3 separate regions of the Homo sapiens genome follow, and regions 2 and 3 are each reported to be linked to region 1. Evidence: microRNA targets listed by miRTarBase, many of them from high-throughput screens and not tested one by one. Region 1 holds a microRNA gene; each other region holds the end of a gene's coding sequence.
Evidence for each region. The annotated mature microRNA hsa-miR-552-5p reads GUUUAACCUUUUGCCUGUUGG and lies in region 1 at 2,149-2,169, shown strand. An mRNA with a match to its seed (bases 2 to 7 or 8) in the 3' UTR can be bound and repressed. Matches are read on the target gene's strand: a 7mer-m8 pairs with bases 2 to 8, a 7mer-A1 pairs with bases 2 to 7 and ends in A, and an 8mer does both.

Region 1 (7,121 bases):
GGAAGTGTGTGTCAGTTGGTCCATGGGTGGCCATGGGCAGGCCTGAAAGGCACTGCAAGTCCCCACTTTGATCTGCGGGACTTACTGCTCAGCCCCCAGCCTTCAGGCCATCCCTGGCCTAAAGGTAGGGCCTTACTAGGGATCCACTCCCTTCAATCCAGGAGCCTGTCTGCCTCCTGCTGCCATCCATGGTGCCTATGGTGCCCAGGCTGCTTGCACCAAAAGGCACCTGCAGGCCAGTGCCAAGCCACCCTCAGCCCTCCCCCTCAGTTTCTCCTCTCATGCTCATTTTGCCCAAATTCTGGAGGAGGCCGAGGTAGCAGGGTACTGGCATGTCAGCACTGCCCCAAGCATGTGCACACCTGGCCAGGCTGTGCCAGTGCCCAGGATAGGCCCCAACCTGGCTCCAAGATTGGAGTAGGGTGCCAGGAGTGGAGAGGCCAGGCAGCAGGAGCAGACACTCTAGAGCCTGTGGGGCCAGGGGGTTGGGGGGGACTTCTGAGGCCCCCAAGAGTGAAGACTGCAGAGACTCTCGGGTCCTGCGCTTGGGAGGGTGGCCACAGCTGCACCTAGGGAACTCCCGCCTTGCCAACTCAAAAGGGGTGGGGCTCCCACTTGTCACCAGCTCCTGCCTGCCTCACGGAGTGTGCAGCCCTGGGGTGGTGCCTCCCTGCTGCAGCCTGCATGATGGCAGCGGCCACTGCCAACAGAGGGAGGAACCTGGTGGGAGGTGATTGGATCAAGGGGGCCAGTTTCCCCCGTGCTGTTCTCGTGGTAGTGAGTGAATTCTCATGAGATCTGGTTGTTTGATAAGTGGCTCTTTCTCCTTCTTTCTCTCTCCCTCTCCTACTGCCTTTTGAAGATGTGCCTTGTTTCCCTTTTGCCTTCTGCCATGATTATAAGTTTCCTGAGGCTTTCCCTGTGAGTCCATTAAACCCCTTTCTTTATAAATTACTCAGTCTCAGGTAGTATCTTTATAGCAGTGTGAAAACAGACTAATACACAACTCAATACGAAAATGGGCAAAGTAACTTAAATAGACACTTAATGAAACAGGAAATCTGAATGTCTAGACTGAATATTCAGTTTCACCAGGGAAGTAAAGGAACTATTTGTATTTATTTGTATGATTATTTGTAACTTGGGAAATACAAATGAAATAGATATCATTATATGCCCATTACATTGTTAAAATTGAAAAAAAGTCTGATAAGATCAAGTGCTAGCAAAGGCATGGAGTAATAGGAACTTTTACACTGCTGGTGGCAGTTCTAAGTGATGAAATTTCTTTGGCATAAATTCAGCATTATCTAATAACATTAATAATGCACATACCCTGTGATCCAGAAATGTTACTAGGTCTATACCTTAGAGAACTTATATAGGTGCAGCAGTGGACACATCAAGAAAGCCCATGGTAACATGGCTTGTGAAAGCAGAACAATAAGCAATGTCCATCAATAGTATAATGATACAGCAAAATACAAAACAATAGTAGAATGATACAGCAACAAAACCAAAAAAATCCATCTGCATAGATAAAACTGAGGACAATAATCTTGGGTAAAAAAGCAAGCTATAGACAAGTTGCTGAGTAGGAGAAGATATTTTCAAATCACACACCTGAAAAGGACTAGAATCTTGATTATATAAGAGCTCTCAAAACTCAATGGTAAAAAGAAAACAAGTAATCTACTAGAACATGGGCAAAACACATGAATAGATATTCCATAGTGTAAGTTATTCAAATGGCAAAAAAAATCCATGAAATATGTTCAACATAAGGGTAATGCAAATTAAAACCATGATAACATATCACTATGCATCTATCAGAATTGCTAAAATAAAAAAAAAATGAGAACACCCAACATTGGCAAGGATGTAGAGAAATAGGCTTGTTCATATATTGTTGATGGGATGTAAAATTGTAGATCTAGCCTAGAAAACAGAGGGCAGCTAATTATAAAACCCAGCATGCCTATGACCCAGCAGTAGCGCCCTCAGGTGTTTATCCCAGGGAAATAAAAACTTATGTCCACACAAAAACCTGGGGAGCTTTATTTGCAATAGCCAAGTGTTCACAGCAGCTTTATTTGTAATAGTCGAATATACTACAGTTTGTTTAACCATTCAAATATACCACAGTTTGTTTAACCTTTTGCCTGTTGGTTGAAGATGCCTTTCAACAGGTGACTGGTTAGACAAACTGTGGTATATACACAGGATGGAATACTACTCAGCAATAAACAAGCAACAAGCTATTGATTACAAACAACTTGGATGAATCTTTGGGGAATTATTATGAGTGAAAAAAGTCAATGCCAAAGGCTACATATGTATGATTACATTTATATAACATTTTGAAATGACAAATGTTACAGATAGAGAAGGGATTAGTGGTTGTTGAGGGTTAAGAATGTGGTGAGGTGGAGGGAGGTGGTTATAAAGGCACAACATGAAGGATCCTCATGGTGATGGACTGGCTGATGTCTTGACTTTAGTGATGGACACACACACACACACACAGACCACAAATGATACAAGTAAATTGGAGAAATCTGGGTAAGACTGGTGAGCTGTATCATGTCAATATCCTGGTTATGATATTGTACTAGTGTTTTAAAAATGTTATTGTATTAGTCTCTTCTCATGCTGCTGATAAAGACATACCTGAGACTGGGTAGTTTATAAAGGAAAAGAGGTTTAATGGGTTTACAGTTTCACATGGCTGAGGAGGCCTCACAATCATGGCAGAAGGTGAAAGGCACGTCTTACATGGTGGCAGATATGAGAGAAATGAGAACCAAGTGAAAGGGGTTTCCCCTTATAAAACCATCAGACCTTGTGAGACTTATTCACTACCATGAGAACAGTATGGGGGAAACCACCCCCGTGATTCAATAATCTCCCCCTGGGTCCCTCCCACAACACGTGGGAATTATGGGAGCTACAACTCAAGATGAGATTTGGGTGGGGACACAGCCAGACCATATCAGTTACCACTGGGGGAAACTGGATAAATGGTACACAGAATTGCATATGAATTTATAATTATCTCAATAACAAATTCTAATTAAAAATTATTAACTCTTTCACTCAAAAATTTCAGAAACAAATTTATCATAGCTTTGACTTGGCTACAAAAACCCCAAGCCATACAAACCTACATAACTGCAAGATTCTAGTCTTAGAGATCAAAAACGTATTAAACAATATATTGTTCAGGATATAAGGTGATAAAGAAAAAAAACATTGGAGAATGAATTCAGATTAGCATTTCTCTGGGTTACGAAGAGAGGCAATCAGATCAAAGAGGTCATGCTTGATGGTCACGCTTTCATTTCTAAACTGGATGGTGGGATACACGAATGTTCCCTTTATTGTTATTCTTTGTACAGCAGACATGTTTTATAAATATCTTTTGTACCCACTCAGTATTTAATGAAACCTTGTAGAAAGTCTTTGGTGTGTGTTGGTGTATATGTTGTGTGTGTATTTGTATTTGGCAATGTATGTTTCCACCTCCTGAGCCTGGCAAGCTCTTTCCTGCCACAGGACCTTTGCACTTGCTATAACCTCTTCTGAGAACTCTCCTTCTTTGGTTCTTCAAAGATTGTGGTCCCACCTCAGCTCAGGCAAGTGAAGTGAAGAGACTTTCAGATCAATGCGTATGCATCCTGAATGGTCTTGTTTGTTGATTCATGTATCTGCCTCTTCTGACTAGAATGTAAGTTCCCTGACGTCAGAGAGCTCCTCTAACTTATTCAACCATTACCTAGACGTGGGTTGACAGACTGAACGAATGCATATTTATGCATATGAATTTAGGGTCTAAAAAAAGCATGCCAATTGAAAGTGTTGGCTTCCTAAGAATTTCTTTGGGCTACTGACTATTTTACTCTTTAATAGTATCATGGTAAACTGGGGGTTAAATTGCTTTTGCAATTATTGAAGGTCTGAGTGAAGGGAGTTACGTAGAATAACAAGGGGCATGTCTTTGAAGGACACAGGTAACAGCAAAGAACAAGTTTAAAAGAGTTAAACACATTCTAGCTAAAGAGGGAATAAGTTTAAATTGGGTTATTTTCCCTGGAGATTATTGCAATTTTAAGAGTAATGCTGCTTCCAAGAATGTTAGCTTTTCTCTTGGTGACCATGGATATAACAGTGTGTGGGTCCGTCATTAATCAGGATAAGGCATTACAGATCTGGGTCCTATTACCCTAAGTTTGTTTGTAAAATGGATTTCTTTGCAGGCAGCACTGACGTGTGACCATGTGATGTTTGGATTGTGCTTCAGAGCAGGGGATGGCTTGGCAAAGGCCTTTGCGGTTTATAACCTATTTTATTTTCTACAATTGAATTTTGAATTTTGAAGTCCAATCAATTTGAGTTCTTTACAAGTATAATTTGGTTACCCATGGGATGGTTTGAATTTAAGTTTCATGGAAGTAAGTTTGCATGCATTTTGGTCTTTTTAAATTAATTCTCATTGGAAACGTTTCATTATTCTGAAATGTTTGGTGATAGTAATTGTGAGGCTAGAACTGCTTGTTCATAAATAGGGTTATTATTGGATCTCCTCATGCCTTGATTGATTTATGATGAAGAAGACACACCTGTAGCATAATGCTCTTTTTTTGGTGGTGATTTCAAGTACAATCACTATGAAATGTAAAACCAGGATACAGAAGTAGAGAATTTAGTTCATGCCTTTCTGTGTAATTGATTTGAATACATTGAGTCAGGCTACATGCTTATGGGGAATTAGAGGTTCAGCAATTTACAAATGTTGCCATTATAATCGGATCGGAAAAAGAAGTGATGGGACCTGCTGAGTGGTGTGAGACAATGGGAAATGTATCTTTTGACAGGAACCCCAATGCCTAGGATTTTCTGTAGCATGAAATGGAGTGAGTGTGCTGGGCGAGGTGGAAAGCCACCATTTCTGCAATCAAAATTATAAAAAGAATTATAATAACTGCCAGTTATTAAGCATTAACTGTGCACCAAGCACTTTGTTAAGACTTTGTCTCTGCATTATTGCATTTAATCTCATAAAAAGCCTATGCAGTAGGTTGTGCTAGGTTGTTGATTGTTCATCTGGCATCACCACCACCTGTCATCAGGTGTCCCTTGCTTTGTGGAAGAGGAGATGAGACCTACATTTCCCAGAATGCCTTTTGCCATATGGCTCCTGGTTTGAGTCTGCCAAAAGAGGTGCTTAGGGAAGGTTTGGAAAGTAGGAAAGGTGGCGAGGCTGTGATTCTCCAGAATTAGTTGCAGGTAGGTAGATAAATAGGCAGACATGAGGTTTGAAGCACCTTCCACTTGAGTTTTACCTGCTTCATTGCTGCAGCCTGAGAAGGCCAGCAGAGCTTCCCAGGGGTTTTGGGTAAGACCTTGGATGCCTGCTGTACTGGTGTCCTTGGGTGCTCAGTGGTGGCTTCCCCAGCTATTCTTTCCCAGGTCTTCTAACAGCTGTAGAAGCTTCTAATTCCCTTCATTAAAGCCCTTCCTACTTGGACTATGTGGAATTGGCTTCAGTGTTTCTGACTGGACTCTGACTGATACATAGGGTATTATTCTTCTTTCCAGTTTTTAGACGAGTGAACTGAGGTTTAGAGAGGTGAATTGACCACTCACAAAAAATGGCAGAGTGGGATTTACACCCAGACCGTAATCACAAGCCTTCACCATCTCTGAAAAAGCACCTGGAGATCCAGGTGCATGAACACTGCTCACAGCCTCATACATATAATGTTTGCTCGATCCCAGAACTATAGCCCCACATTAATTGTGACCGTGGGCACCCCTCTCAGAGACAGGGTTTTCCATCTGTTGGTCCACTTAGACTGCATGGTCACTGGTCAACTATGGTTGCTCTTCCTTGTTGGAAACCCAGACAGCCTCTGGAAATTAGTTAACTTGTGGATGAAAACAAGAAATATATATTCATATCTTGCCTTGCTCATACCAATTGCTATCGTAGGTGACAGATTCTTGCATCAGTAATTTTAGAGACAGCTGAAATTGTTCATGATAGATGTCCACTTGAAGGTTACATAACGGGATATTAACACTGCTTACATCAGAGGAGAGGTCATGGGTGGGGACTGGCGCTACAATTTACCATCTTTTTATTGTATGTTTCAGTTGTTATAATCAAACATGTGTTACTTTTGTAATTTGAAAAACATGCTATAAACAAACTGAATATAAAATCAAAAGACATGCTCACTTAGATACTAGGGCATGTGGCATGATGTATGTGATGGTGACACCAAGTTGACAACGGACATCTATAATGTCACATAATGCACTTTAAGTGATGGCACAGGACTTGTATATGGTAGCAAGCAGAGCAGCAGTGGTTCTCAAATCTTTGTCTAGTTGGAAGAACCACTTTTAAATAACATTTCACATGGAACCACAATATATAAAACTGATAAGAGGGGAGCTACTCTGAATAAAACGACAGTAATCCCTGGAGCCTCAGAGCCCCAAAGACTAGTATTTTTGTTTCAACCCCATGTTCTTCCATTAGCCTTAGAAATGCCACTGTAGAACCTTGCTGCCATGAAGAAAACATAACGACAACATAAATGCCAACAAGAAATCTGCTCTCATGCTGATTGATTACTTGTGTTCTCTCATTATTGTTCCTTCTCTTTGTAGGGTAGGCCATGGGAATGAGCTCTCGATGCTTCTCTACAATCATGAGTAAAAGTCAGGCTTCTCCATGGAGCAGAACTAGCTTGGACACTAGCCTGATGAGCAGATATCTCAGGAATTACATGGGACAGAGAAGATGAGGTCCCAGTGAGCATTGTTTCCCCAAAGCCTGGAGTCAGAAAGCCCCATGGGATGGGAAGAAGAGGGAGTGTGTCTTCAACCTGAGATATTCCTGAGTCACCTTAGATTGGCAGCCCGACACAGATAGGCTTGGAGCAAAGAGCAAGGACTGAGGGATGGATGAGTCAGAGGGAAGGGGTCTGGACCAATGCCTCCATTGTGAACTGTGAGGCTCTTGCATATTGGGAGCTCTCTGAAGGCAGCAGTGTCTCCAGCATCACACCAAGAGCAACTGAGGCTAGGCTTGTGTCTCTACCCTCTCCCTT
Region 2 (7,121 bases), not on the chromosome of region 1:
GGCCACCTTTGCCAAAGTGGAGAAGGAAGAGGACATGATTCAGTGAGAAGCCGGGTGCCCTGGGCGCGGGGAGGGCTGGAGGCAGAGTCCAGGCCCTGGCATGTCCCTCCCCCACAGCCCCTCCTCCACGGTCCGCTCTGTGGAGTGGGGTGCCTGTCCCCTGCCACTGGGTGACCCACCCCTCTCCACCAGCTTCTGGAAGCGGCTGAGCCGCCTGATGAGCAAAGTGAACCCAGAGCCGAACGTCATCCACATCATGGGCTGCTACATTCTGGGGAACCCCAATGGAGAGAAGGTACAGTGACCCCCAAGCCCCACCCCAGACCTCTGGAAACCCCCGACGTGGACAGACAGGGCAGAGCCTTCCATGTTTCCTGGCATTTTTTTTCCTTCCCCCGGGCATTCCCCTAGAAATCCTTTATGCCTGAGCCCAGCCAGGTTTGGGGGGTCTGAAAAAAGAGGGTGGGCCCTGCTCCCCATCTCCTCCCCGCTCCTCCTTCCCCATCTCTCTGCCTCGGACTCATGGCACCCCGCTTCCTCCAGCTGTTCCAGAACCTCAGGACCCTCATGACTCCTTATAGGGTCACCTTCGAGTCACCCCTGGAGCTCTCAGCCCAAGGTGAGTTACCCAGGCTGGGCCGAAGCTCTGCAGCCACTGCGGGGCCACGGTGGGGTGGGATCCCCAGGGCCGGCCAGGCCTGAGCCTCCTGCCCCCGCTCCGCCCAGGGAAGCAGATGATCGAGACGTACTTTGACTTCCGGTTGTATCGCCTGTGGAAGAGCCGCCAGCACTCGAAGCTGCTGGACTTTGACGACGTCCTGTGAGGGGCAGAGGCCTCCGCCCAGTCACCATCAGGCCACTCCCTCTGCACCGGGACCTGGGGCTGGGCCGCCTCGTGCTCCCCGGGACTGTGTGGCTCCGGTCTCGCCTGGAGCCACTTCAGGGCACCTCAGACGTTGCTCAGGTTCCCCCTGTGGGTTCCGGTCCTCGCTGCACCCGTGGCCGCAGAGGCTGCAGTCCCTGGGGGCCGGGAGGATCCCGCCCTGTGGCCCGTGGATGCTCAGCGGCCAGGCACTGACCTGCCATGCCTCGCCTGGAGGCTCAGCTGTGGGCATCCCTCCATGGGGTTCATAGAAATAAGTGCAATTTCTACACCCCCGAAACAATTCAAAGGGAAGCAGCATTTCTTGTTAACTAGTTAAGCACTATGCTGCTAGTTACAGTGTAGGCACCCCGGCCCAGCAGCCCAGCAGCCCACATGTGTTCAGGACCCTCCCTGCCCACCCCCTCCCTGCCGTATCGATCACCAGCACCAGGGTGGCCCGTGTGCGTGGGGCCAGCGTCGCCGGGCTGCCCAGCCTGGCTCTGTCTACACTGGCCGAGTCTCTGGGTCTGTCTACACTGGCCGAGTCTCCGACTGTCTGTGCTTTCACTTACACTCCTCTTGCCACCCCCCATCCCTGCTTACTTAGACCTCAGCCGGCGCCGGACCCGGTAGGGGCAGTCTGGGCAGCAGGAAGGAAGGGCGCAGCGTCCCCTCCTTCAGAGGAGGCTCTGGGTGGGGCCTGCTCCCCATCCCCCCAAGCCCACCCAGCACTCTCATTGCTGCTGTTGAGTTCAGCTTTTACCAGCCTCAGTGTGGAGGCTCCATCCCAGCACACAGGCCTGGGGCTTGGCAGGGGCCCAGCTGGGGCTGGGCCCTGGGTTTTGAGAAACTCGCTGGCACCACAGTGGGCCCCTGGACCCGGCCGCGCAGCTGGTGGACTGTAGGGGCTCCTGACTGGGCACAGGAGCTCCCAGCTTTTGTCCACGGCCAGCAGGATGGGCTGTCGTGTATATAGCTGGGGCGAGGGGGCAGGCCCCCCTTGTGCAGAGCCAGGGGTCTGAGGGCACCTGGCTGTGTTCCCAGCTGAGGGAGGGCTGGGGCGGGGGCCGGGCTTGGAACGATGTACGATACCCTCATAGTGACCATTAAACCTGATCCTCCACCGCGGCCGCCGCGTGGGTCTGTCCTCTCAGTGCTTTCCAGGGGCCTTCCTGTGCCCAGCTTCTGGGCCCACTCCTGTGAGGTCACTGCTGCAGGGCCTTCCTGCCTGGACAGAGTTGGAGCTAGGCCACTAGACCACCCCACAGGGCATAGCCAGGGGGACCAGCACAGGAGGGGACGGAGAGGAGCTGCAGGAGGGCTGGGGGGAGGCTGCAGTCTCGGAGGGGGGCCTCGCCGGGTCTGGAGGGGACAGCAGAGACAGCCCGTTCCCCCTGCCGCCTGAGGGCACCAGGGAGAGGGCTGTATGTCCCTCACGCCACACTGTGTGTGCAGTCAGCAGTGTGGCCACAGATGGGGGCCACTCTCTCAACCTCAGGTGTCCTCAGGGCCCAGACCGCTGCTGGGCACAGCCAGGCTGGCTGCCAGCTGGTTCCCTGCCCCGTGGCTGGGGGACAGAGCAGCACGTATCAGCTGGGCTAGGGTCAGGGGGCCACTGGTGCGCAGCCTGGCACAGCCTGGCAGGCTTGAGGCCCAGTGTGCTGGGGGTGGTCACACAGCCGTCAGCCACCTCCAGCTCTTCCAGGGCATTCTAGATGGGGTCCCGGGAGGGGGCAGGTTTTGGTGCCAATTTGAGTGTATAAAGTTTTAGGTAAATACCAAATGCCTGTAGACTCTGTGTTATTCAGTTACTATTTGAAAGTGACATATCGTGAAATCATGGGGGATCCGAGTCTCCTTTCTGCAAAGTTGATGAGACAAGTCGCCACCGCCTGGAATCTGCTGACGCTGCCGTGCAGGCCTCAAGGGTGGCACTCTTCAAAGTAGGACAGCATGCGAGGTCGCCACGTGCCCACACACTGCACTGCTCCAAAGGCACATCTGTCCGTCACCTGAGCTCTGAGACCCAGAACAGCCACAGGGACCCTGCAGTCCTAACCCGTCAGGTGGCTCCTGGGGCTGCTGCCAGCCGCATGCCTGTCCCACACAGTCCGGTCCGTAGGGTCTGCTGGAGTGAGTAAGGCCTGGGGGGCCTTATGTATGGTCCATGAGGTTCCATTCCTCATGCCATGACCACCGGGGGAAGTGAAAGGAGGAAGACACGTCAAAGCCAGCAGGCCCAGGAGCAGACATAGAAGGAGGTGGCCCCACAGGAGCAGACGCAGAAGTGCCAACGGGGAAGGAGGTGGCCCCAAGTGGAGGCAGGCTGGGCCAGGGCGGGGGGCCGGTGACCAGGGCAACCTCGGCTACTTTGCTGCACCCGCCCTCGCCTCCCTTGAAATACAAAAACAGCAGCAGCCAGAAATAGTTGGGGAAGAAATAAGAAATATTTGCCACACATGGGAGTGATTAAGGTCCTTAATATTTAAAGAGTTTTTATATGTTGCTAAAGAAAATGACAAAAACCGATATGGAAAAGTGAGCAGAGATGTGGAGAAATCATTCGCAGAGCAGGAAACTGGCTGGTAATTCCATGAAGAAAGTCCTCATCCCATCAGGAATCATGGAAAGGCCAATGAAAGCGACGAGGTAACCCCCTTTTCAATTTGAGAGGGTTTTGATCTGTCGCGCAGGCTGGGGCTCACCGCTGTCTTGACCTCCTGGGCTCAAGCGATTCTCCCACCCGCTCAGCCTCCGGAGTAGCTGGGACTACAGGCATCACCACGCCTGGCTAATTCTTTTATGTTTTGTAGAGACAGGGTCTCACTCTGTTGCCCAGGCTAGTCTCAAACTCCTGGCCTCGAGCAATCCTCCTGCCTCCTCAGCCTGTTACAGCTTTTTTTTTTAAGGTAATCTGGTAACAGCTCTTAAAAGTAGTGTGACTGATGAGTGCACAAGCCCGTCCAGCCCCAGCCGCCCCCTGGCACCTTTTCTGAGGGTGTCTACTGCCCCGCTGTGCTGTGCCCGCTAATCTGGGTGTGGCCCGATCGCACAATGGCTTTTCTGGAAGGATCCGATGCTCACGAGGCTTATTGCTAAGGAGGAAGATGCAACAGGTCCAGCTGTTCCAAGTGACTGGGTCACGCTTCACATCGATGTGCAATGTCTCCTGCCACCTGCCTGGATGCACTCTCGTGACTACCTGGCAGGCTGGGAACAGCACGGGGGAGGCCCCCGCCTGCCCCAGCGACCTGCCTGCCCTGCTCTCAAGTGCAGACCCCCAGGTCTGCACTTCCACGCTCACTACACAACCCCAAGTGGCCCCCCGGGTGGCCCCGTGGCCGGATGTGCACCCAGCAGAGCAGCCACCCTTGAGACCTGGGGTGTGGTCTGGGGGCTGTGTGGAGACCTCCCGCCAGGGTGCAGGAGTGTCTAAGGGCAAGCAGAGGTGTGATTCCTGTCTGTAAGGTAAAACCCCCGTGAGCAGGAATCAATAATGTAGACATGATCGGAATGGTGGAGGGAGCTGTGGCGGTCACACCCTTGCTGTTAGCATTGCCTCTGTGGGGGCAGGAGACAGCAAACATAAAACCTGTCCCTGAAAGGGGCAAGATGGCCCCGATGGCTCCCTGCACCTGTCCTGGTGCCTGCAGGCAGGCGGGTCAGCTCCCCTCCCGCTGCCAAATCTCCCACGTCTCTGTGCGCTCTGTCACCCCTGCTTTCTGGCCTGAGGGCTGGGAAGGGAGGTCTGGGGAGCCCAGGAGCTGAGAAGTACCCAAAAACCACCCCCAACGCCCCCCAACCCTCAGGCGTGCCTGTGAGTGTGTCTGTGTGTCTCACTCTGACTCACCCAGACAACTGACTTCAGCAGCCAACCTTGGTCATTCCCAGAACCACCACTGGGGGGCATACGTGTGGCTAGACTGGGGGCGCCCGAATATCTGTCTCTACAAAAAGTAAAAAAAAAATTAATGGGGTGTGGTGGTGGTGCGTGCCTGTGGTGTCAGCTGCTTGGGACGCTGGGGCAGGAGGATCACTTGAGCCCGAGAATTCAAGGCTACAGTGAGTTAAGATTACGCCACTGCACTCCATCCTGGGTGACAGAGCAAGACCTTGTCTCAAGAAAAAATTTTTAAATGAGTAAAATTTTAAAAAACAGATTTTGTCAGTCTTTCTGTCATTTCAACGCCTTCTCAACCTTGGTGTCTGCTGATGGCCTCTTCCCTGCTGGTCAGGATTCTCACAGTTCTTTGGGTGTGGAGGAATTCTGGTTTGTAATTTTTTTTTTTTTCTTAGAGTCTCTTTCTGTTGCCCAGGCTGGAGTGCAGTGGCACAATCTCGTCTGACTGCAACCTCCACCTTCCGGGTTCAAGTAATTCTCCTGCTTCAGACTCCCAAGTAGCTGGGATTACAGGCACCCACCACCACGCTTGGCTAATTTTTCGTATTTTTAGTAGAGACAGGGGTTTCACCATGTTGACCAGGCTGGTCTCGAACTCCTGACTTCAGGTGATCCACGTGCCTTGGCCTCCCAAAGTGCTGGGATGACAGGCATGAGCCACCACGCCTGGCCTGGTTTGTAATGTTTTGAATCTTACTTAATATGAGACTCGGAGTCTTCCTTTTATCCTATGGTGAACATTGCTGTTTTAGTTTCAGCCTCAGTGGCTATTGGTCCAAGGTCAGTTTTTCTCCAAGATTTTGGGGCACCCTCTGGTCTAGTCACACGTATGCCCCCCAGTGGTGGTTCTGGAATGACCAGGCTGGTCCTGAACTCCTGGCCTCAAGTGATCCTCCTGCCTTGGCCTCCCAAAGTGCTGGGATGACAGGTGTGAGCCACCATGCCCGGCCTGAAGACTTTAAAGTAGCTATTATAGCGGTGCCTAACTGAGCCATCGTGAGCACTTAAAATGTCAGAAGAGAAAGTCTCAGCAAAGGCTGGGCCCAGTGGCTCACGCCTGTCATCCTAGCACATTGGGAGGCCGAGGCGGATGGATCACTTGAGCACAGAAGTTTGAGAGAAGCTTGGGCAACATGGTGAAACCCTGTTTCTACTAAAAACAAAAACAAAAACAAAAATCAGCCGGGCACAGTGGTGCATGCCTGTGGTCCCAGCTACTTGGGAGGCTAAGGAGGGAGGATTGCTTGAGCCAGGGAGTTCACAGCTGCAGTGAGCTATGATCCTGCCACTGGGCCCGGTGGCTCACGCCTGTAATCCCAGCATTTTGGGAGGCCGAGGTGGGCGGATCACCTGCGTTCAGGAGTTCGAGACCAGCCTGGCCAACCTGGTGAAACCCTGTCTCTATTAAAAATACAAAAAAATTAGCCGGGTGTGGTGGCGCATGCCTGTAATCCCAGCTACTGGGGAGGCTGAGGCAGGAGAATCACCTGAACCTGGGAGGCAGAGGTTGCCGTGAGCCTACGTTGTGCCACTGTACTTCAGCCTGGGCAACAGAGTGAGACTTCGTCTCAAAAAAAAAAAATTTATATATATGTATATGTTTTAACTGAATAAAATGAAAATACAACATATCAAAAATTGAGAGAGATAGCTAAACAGTGCTTAAGAGGGAAATTCATAGCACAAATGCTTACATTAGAAAAAAAGAAAGGTTCAAGTCAATAATCTAACCTTCTGCATTAAGAAACCAGAAAAGGAGGAGCAATATAAGCTCAAATCAAGCAGAAGAAAGGAAATACAAGTAAGAGCAGAATTAAAATAATTCAAAAACCGGCCGGGCGTGGTGGCTCACGCCTGTAATCCCAGCACTTTGGGAGGCCGAGGTGGGCGGATCATGAGGTCAGGAGATCGAGACCATCCTGGCTAACACGGTGAAACCCTGTCTCTACTAAAAATACAAAAAATTAGCTGGGCGTGGTGGCACATGCCTGTAGTCCCAGCTACTCAGGAGGCTGAGGCAGGAGAATGGCGTGAACCTGGGAGGCAGAGCTTGCAGTGAGCTGAGATCCGGCCACTGCACTCCAGCCTGGGCAACAGAGAGAGACTCCGTCTCAAAAAAATTAAATTAAATTAAATTAAATTTAAAAATTCAAAAACCAAAAAGAAAAAATTATGAAACAAAAAGCAGGTTCTTTGAAATGATGAATAAAATGGATAAACCTCTAGCTAGCAACACTGATGAGAGACACAGAGGACAAAATTACCAATATGAGGAATGGGAGGGTTAGCACTGCAGACCCTACAGACATTAAAAGGATAACCAGGAAGTACTATGAATAATTGTAGTCACATAAA
Region 3 (7,121 bases), not on the chromosome of region 1:
ACAGGAGCCAGGGAAGGAGAGCAGACAGGACACCCTCAGCCCATGAGGGTAATCGGGAGGATCCAGCACTGATATGGTTTGATTGTTTCCCCACCCAAATCTCATCTTGAATTGTAGCTCCCATAACCTCCACGTGTCATGGGAGGGATCAGGTGGGAGGTAATTGAATCACAGGGATAAGTTTTTCCCATGCTGTTCTCGCCGTAGTAAATAAGTCTTAGGAGATCTGATGTTTTCACAAAGGGCAGTTCCCCTGCACATGCTCTCTTGCCTGCTGCCATGTGAGACATATCTTTGCTCCTCCTTCCCCTTCTGCCATGATTGTGAGGCCTTCCCAGCCATGTAGAACTGTCAGTCCATTAAACCTCTTTTTTTTATTATTATAAATTACCCAGTCTCAGGTATTTCTTCATAGCAGTATGAAAATGAACAAATACAAGGGGAGAGCAATGGCCAGAGTCCATGAGAGAGACCGTATATGAAACCAAGTCCACATTTCCCCAGGCAGGCTGGCATTCAGAGGTCTGAATCCAGAGTTCAGCCCGGTGGGGGCAGGGACCTGAGGGAGAGAAGGGGGAAGAGAGGAGGGAGGGCAGGACAATGAAAAGGAATAGGCTTAGGAAATTCCAGCACCATCGTCACCAGCTGGAGGGGGCCGTGTGATCTGAATGGGCAGGCCTGTTGACTGAATACACCACGGTTGTGCTAGACACCCAACCCTCCCTCAGAATCCCTTTCCCTCTCTCACGAAGAGTATGGCTGGCTCCCTGCATCATTCTGGGTGAGCTCCCTCTCTCCACCACTCCAGTGGTCGTGTGCACTTTTGCCAGCGTCCCAGGGCAGGAAGTTGTCTTCAAGCCTGCTGCGGGCTCCTGTTTTATCTCCTGTGGACCCTCCATAGAGCCTGGACTATGTGAATGGGTTGCTGATTGATGAGCAACAACCAAGACAGGCCAGGAATATTTATGAGGTGTAAAAGGTGGCAGCAAGGCTGCATGGAGGGGAAGTTGGAGGAAGAGTGCCCTGAGACTAGTAAGCTCCTACTCTGTAGATGAAGGATTGGCTGTGGACATGCAATGAAAATGATCCAGGTGGTGACCATGTCTCAGATGGACTCGTGAGGCTTCTGAGCTCTCGGCACATGAGGAGACAGGTGTACTGGGGCACTGATCACAGGCCTGTGTTGCCACCAGACAGGGTCTGGGGTAGAGGGTTGGCCCAAGCTGTGTATGTGAGCAGGTTGGATGGCAAGGCAGTGGAGTTGGCACCCTTCCCTGTTAAACTGATGGGGATGTGTTTGGTCCAATAGAGGAAGCGTCATGCACCATCCTGTTGGAAGCATCCTTACCTCCATGATAAGTGTTTGAGCCTGGGGAGAAGGTGTCTGCAGTGACCCTCTCCGTGGTAGTTGCCATGGAATTTCTGAACTCAAGTGAGCACAAGTGAAAGAACTGTGGGTTTCTTCATGTAGGCAGGAGGCCCAGGAAGGGCAGACTCCATAATTTGAATCAAAGAATTCCCATGCCAGGTGATTTCATTCATTCCATGCACTTATTGATTCCTACAGAAAACTTTTATTCAATATATGCTGAGGAAACACCAAGTCAACAAAACAATAGAAAGTGGCAAAGCCCTTAATTCAGTCTGTAGGGAGTGGGGGGAGATGGTGAGGAGGTGTGAATCGCCCATCTGAGCCAGGGAGGCCAGGAAGGCAGAGCCAGACTTGGGGACTGGCAGTGTGCAAGAAAAGGAGAGACAGCCTGTGTCCAGGCCAGAAAGCTCTCCTTCTATGACAGTATTGGTCTGGTTTTCCTCCTGGATACTGCCTGTGTCTGAAAGCAACTGCTGCTCTCTGTGCCTACCTGCCTTTGTTAACAGGGAAAATGGTCATGGTCAGCGGATGCTCACTTCTGCTCACCTTGGATCACTTCTACTGAAGAGATGGTTTGACAGCAAGCAGACAGGAAGAAACTTTTGGGGAGGATGAATATATTTTTCACCTTCACTGTGGTTGTGGTTTGATGGGACTAAATGTTTGTCAAAACTCTTTGATTTGTTTCTCAGTACTTAGGAGAAAAAGTAAGCAGAAAACCAGGAAGGATATAGATGACCTGAAAAGCACCATTAACTACTCTGACTAAATAAAACAATAAGAAAAGCACCGCATTCAACAATAGCAGAATAAACAATCCTCTCAAGTGTGCATGAAATATCTCCCAAGATAGATGGTATTCTGGGCCATCAAACAAAGCTTACAAATTGAAAAGAATAGAAATAATAGAAAGCCTCTTCTTAGACCATAATATAATAAAACTCAAAACCAAACACCAAGATATCTGAAAAATGCCCAAATATTGGAAATTTTAAAATAAGCTCCTATATAACCTATGGGTCAAAGAGGGAGTCCCAGGAGAATTTTAAAAATACATTAAGTTGAATGAAAATAAAAATGTACATACAAAAAGTGGGATTCTGCTAAAGTGTGTCCTTGAGGGAAATATATAGCATATTTTAAATGTTTATATTAGAAAATGAAATCTAAAATCAATAACCATAACTTTCACTCTAGGAAACCAAAGAACGAAGAGCAAGTTGAATTTAAAGAAATTGTAGAAGATCCCACCTCCCTCCCTTCTCACACTCCCACCTCTTCCCCCTTACTCCCTACCCCTACCATTTGAGACACACAGACACACACATCATTTTACAACATGTTCATTTTATTTTCGTCACCATGGGGTATACCCTTTGGGGTATAAAATGTACTCTACACCCTGTTGGCTATTTTTCTGGGGTTAGACCTCTGGAGACTTTTCAGGTAGCCTTGAGGTTTCTGGCCTTGCCCGGGAATTACTGGCTGCCCAAAGAGAGACTGGAGAAGGTGGTGGTCTCCTTGCCCTTGTGGTCCTACTGTGTCTCATTTTGATTGAGTTCTTTTGGCTGGTCGGAGTGGCTGGATAGTGTTGGCCCACTCCATTCCTCAGGTTTTTTTGAAGCGGTGGTCTTTTAGGGAGAGCCTTTTGTTCCTGGAACTTCCTTGACGGGTCCCTGTTCCCTTCCAGGTTGTCTTGGCAACCTGGAAAACCAACCAGGAGATCAAAGAAGGGCACTGGTTTGGGGAAGAGGATGGAGAAGGGGTGAGAACAGGGGCTTCATAGAGAAATGGGGCAGGGTGGGGTGGGGGTTGTGCCAGGGGAGGACAGGGTAGGATTTAGAGCTTCGGTGGGCCGTTCACTTTGATAGGGCTTCTGGGCTAGGGTTGAGAGGATGCTTTCCACTTCCTCACCTCTTTGGTGTTGGTGGGTGGTTGTTGGACAATGGGCTGGAGGCTCGTGGTTTCCTGGACATCTTCACCAGACCAGTGTCTCTCAACAGTCTACTCCAGTCCACCTGGTCTCTCCATGCCTCCCCCAGGACAGTGAAGGCAGGCCAGCAGGCTAGAAACTCACAGCGCATTTTTATGTTAGTCTTGTGGTAGAATTCCTTTTCCAGGAAACCTTGGTCTTTTCTCTTAACACCTTCAACTAATTGGATGAGGCCTATCCACATTATGGAAGTTAAACTGCTTTACTTAAAGTCAACTGATTGTAAATGTTGATCACATCTACAAAATACCTTCACAGCAACATCTAGACTACTGTTTGACCACACAGCTGAGCAGTATAGCCTAGACAAGTTGACACATAATACTAGCCGTTGCACATATCTTGCACCATACAAAAATGTAACTCAAAATGAGCCACAGACTTTATATGTCACAATTACATTGCTTTTTTTTTCTAGGACAAAACAAAAAAAATTGTGTTACCTGAGGTTATGTCTTAGCTTAGGCTGCCATAACAAAATGCCATTGACTGAGTAGCTGAAACAACAGAAATTTATCTTTTTTCAGTTTTGAAATGTGGAAGTCCCAGATCAAGGACTGGCGGGGTTGTCTTCTGGTGATGGCCTTATTCCTGGCTTGTAGATGGCCCTTTATTAATTTGTCAGTTCTTGGCCTTTCCTCTGTGTATGTGCAGAGAGAGAGAGAGGAAGAGAGAGAGAGAAAGAAAGAGAGAGAGAGAGAGAAGTCATGCAGGCACAAAAGTACTTTCTTCTGTTTCTTCTCCCTTCTTACAATCACACTAATTCTGTGGGATCAAGCTCCCACCCTTATGGCCTCTTTTAACATTAATTACTACCTTAGAAGCCTCATCTCCAAATACTGACACCCTGGGGCTGAGGGTTTCAAAATATGAATTTGGTGGAGGACATAAGCATTAGCAAAGAATAGACACATAGATTAATAAAACAGAATAGAGCTCAGAAATAGACCTGCACACACATAGTCAGGTGATTCACAACAAAGGCAATAATGGTGAAAGTACAGGTTTTCCAACAAAAGGTGCCTGAACAATTAGACACCTATACACAAATTATAATAACCTAGACATATCCTTACATATTGCACGAAAATTAACTCAATACATCATAGACCTGATGAAAAATACAAGAACTATACAACCTCTAAAAGAAAACGTAAGAGAAAATCCACATAACTTTGAGTTTGGTGATGAGTTTTTAAATTCAACACCAAAAGCATGATCAAGGAAAGAAAAATTTGCCAAGTTGATTTTATTAAAATAAAAATTTTATGCTCTTCAAAGGACAATGTTAAGAGAATGAAAACAAGCCACAGTCTAGCAGAAAAAATCTGTGGTACACATATGTGATAAAGAACTTGTCTCTACAATATATACGAATTCTTAAAGCTCAATGATAGAAAAAATGAAAATAGTCAAAGATCTGAACACAATCTACACAAAAGAAGATACACACAGGGCAAATAAGCATAATAAAATACTGAGTGTCCTTTGGCATTAGATAATTGTGTACTAAAGTGAGATACTACTACACACCTATTAGAATGTCTAAAACCCATAAAAAAGCAAAACAAAACCAAGACCAATTGCCAGTGAAGATGTGGAGCAACAGAAACTCCGGGCGTGGTGGAAATTAGAAGTTTAACAAATGGCCGATGGCTGTTATTTCTAATATTTTTAAAGCCTAGGCATTAACACTCTGGGACTTTGTTGTTGTTGTCGTTGTTCTCCAGGAGTCATCAGAAAATATACAGCTCAACAGGACATGGGATAATTAGGCCAAAAAGGAAGCTTCACCTGTAAAATTCAGTTAAGTATTTCCTCTTAGAGAATGCACTTCAAACTTTGTGTGTGCGGGAGTTTTGCCCAGCCAGGTGCAACCCAAAACTCCTAGAATGTGTGTCAAAGACCAATTCCTTCCATCTCTCCCAGCTGCTTTCCCACCCAAACCACTATTTTCATCCATTTTGTTACCATCCAAAATCTGGCCCACGCCTACAATTGGTCAAATTGCACTTGAGATAACCTAGTTAGAATGCCTTTTTAATGGAGTCAGCTCTGGCTCTCCCTGCCTGGCAGAAAAGCACCTGGCCAGTGGCTTCTGGGTCACCCTTCCTGGGAAATTCAGCCTTATCGCTCAGGAAACCCTTGCAGATGATAGATTTTCATCACCTAGATCTTGGGTTGTGTTCAATAGCAGTGGGACAAAAGCACAGGACACCTTCTATTCCAGCCCCAGGTGGAGATTCCTCTCTGTTCATCCCCCATCCGAAATAAACTACTCAGAGTTGCTTTCCATTCCAGGCTTTTCTCTCATTCACTGAGAATCTGTGGGCCCTGGACCCACCCAGCTTCATCAGAGTCAGCTCCTTCAGAAGGAACTGCAGGTTCCCAAAGTCCAAAATGCCCCAGCTCAGGGCATTTACACTCCACAACTCCCTCCTGGAACCCCACACCCTCACCCTTCTCTTATATTTCCTCTACATCTTACAGGACTTCTTGCCACCTTAATTATATGACTGCAGGTCCTAGGCTCTACAACCCTACGGGTAGGCGTGAGTCTTGCTTACCTTAGCATCCGCACTACTAACGCAGAGCCTTCCACAGAGCAGATGCTGAGTGAATGGAAAATAAATGAGCCAGTGAACAGGAAGAATTATTTATTCAGATTTAATTTCTCTTAAATTCTCAAAGAAGCCAAGGATATCCAGGTATCCATGCTTTTTTTTCAAATTTACAGAATAGAGTGAGGTATAAGGCAAGAATTAAGTATCTTTTAACTTCTTGAGGTCTTTATCTCATGTATTTTACTGCTAATTCTTTCACAATTCTAAGCACATACTTTTTCCACTGCTGTTATTTGTCACAATTCACAAAATGGAATGGATTTCCCAATCTGAATAAAAAACAACACTCTTACTCCTAAACTATATAAACAGCACTATGTGTGACTACTGTCATTCATAAACTTGGATGCTGAAGTTCATTCAACCATCCGTTAAAAGGAACATTTGAACAATTCCAACAGGAAACAAAGATAAATCTCAAAGTCATCCAATAGAACAGAAACTCACTACTAACAATACTGACTGCTCTCTTCAAAGAGTGAAGAATGGGCCTCATGTCACACGAGGCAGTGGAAACTAATGGATGGGGCCTTGGAAGGTGCACTGGCCCAGACCCCCTCCCACTGGCCCTGGCTGCAACTCGTGCTCAGACTCACTCTTCCCCCTCTCTAAAAGCCCATTCATGCAGGGGTGGGTAGGAAATGTGAGGTCCTCCACTGATCTTTAGCAAATGGTGCAGGACTTTCACATAGCTGGTTTCAACGAGGGCCCTTGGACCCCACAGGAACTCGTAGCATGCAGGATCACTGCCGGGGACCTGCCGGTACTCCAGGTAGTTTTCCTGCACCAAATCTTGGGTGAGCAGCTTCCTGGGATGCGCAAAGACACTGTCCTCCCTCCCATCAGATGCCTCCAACACACTCAGCTCCTCCCAGATTTTCTCCTCAGGGGCACAGTCGCCCTCTTTTGCGATTATGGCCAGGACGATTATCAGGAGGCCTGTCTTGGGCACGATCTGATTGTCGCCCAGCAGGCCATCGTAGGAGAGGCCCAGGCAGGTGACAAGGATGTACAAGTGGCCGATGCGGACCACTTCCACCACCTCGATGCCAAAGACCAGCTGCAAGTACTCGGAGGCTTTGCTGAAGATCACAGGAAAGAAGTCCTGGAAATTTCTGATGACACTCCCCAG

Region 2: miRTarBase lists NSMF as a target of hsa-miR-552-5p. The part of its 3' UTR that is shown has no 7-base or 8-base seed match.
Region 3: miRTarBase lists MAGEA12 as a target of hsa-miR-552-5p. Seed matches in the 3' UTR shown: 7mer-A1 at 6,137-6,143.

What each region holds. Positions count from the first base shown.
Region 1 is chr1:34,664,698-34,671,818 of GRCh38, reverse strand. It overlaps MIR552 (microRNA 552), which reads left to right and starts at 2,125; the gene lies at 2,125-2,220. The region is part of intron 1 of LOC105378641 (a long non-coding RNA gene); the gene reads left to right.
Region 2 is chr9:137,443,097-137,450,217 of GRCh38, reverse strand. It overlaps NSMF (NMDA receptor synaptonuclear signaling and neuronal migration factor), which reads left to right. Exons shown (of 16, transcript NM_001130969.3): 13 at 1-42; 14 at 193-295; 15 at 544-619; 16 at 727-2,648. The coding sequence ends at 824. It overlaps MIR7114 (microRNA 7114), which reads left to right and starts at 132; the gene lies at 132-192. RefSeq lists an enhancer at 1-949.
Region 3 is chrX:152,736,567-152,743,687 of GRCh38, reverse strand. MAGEA12 (MAGE family member A12) reads right to left here. Exons shown (of 3, transcript NM_001166387.4): 3 at 6,019-7,121. The coding sequence ends at 6,582. It also overlaps the pseudogene CSAG4. Among named protein-coding and RNA genes, the nearest start is that of MAGEA12, 6.4 kb to the right of the region's middle.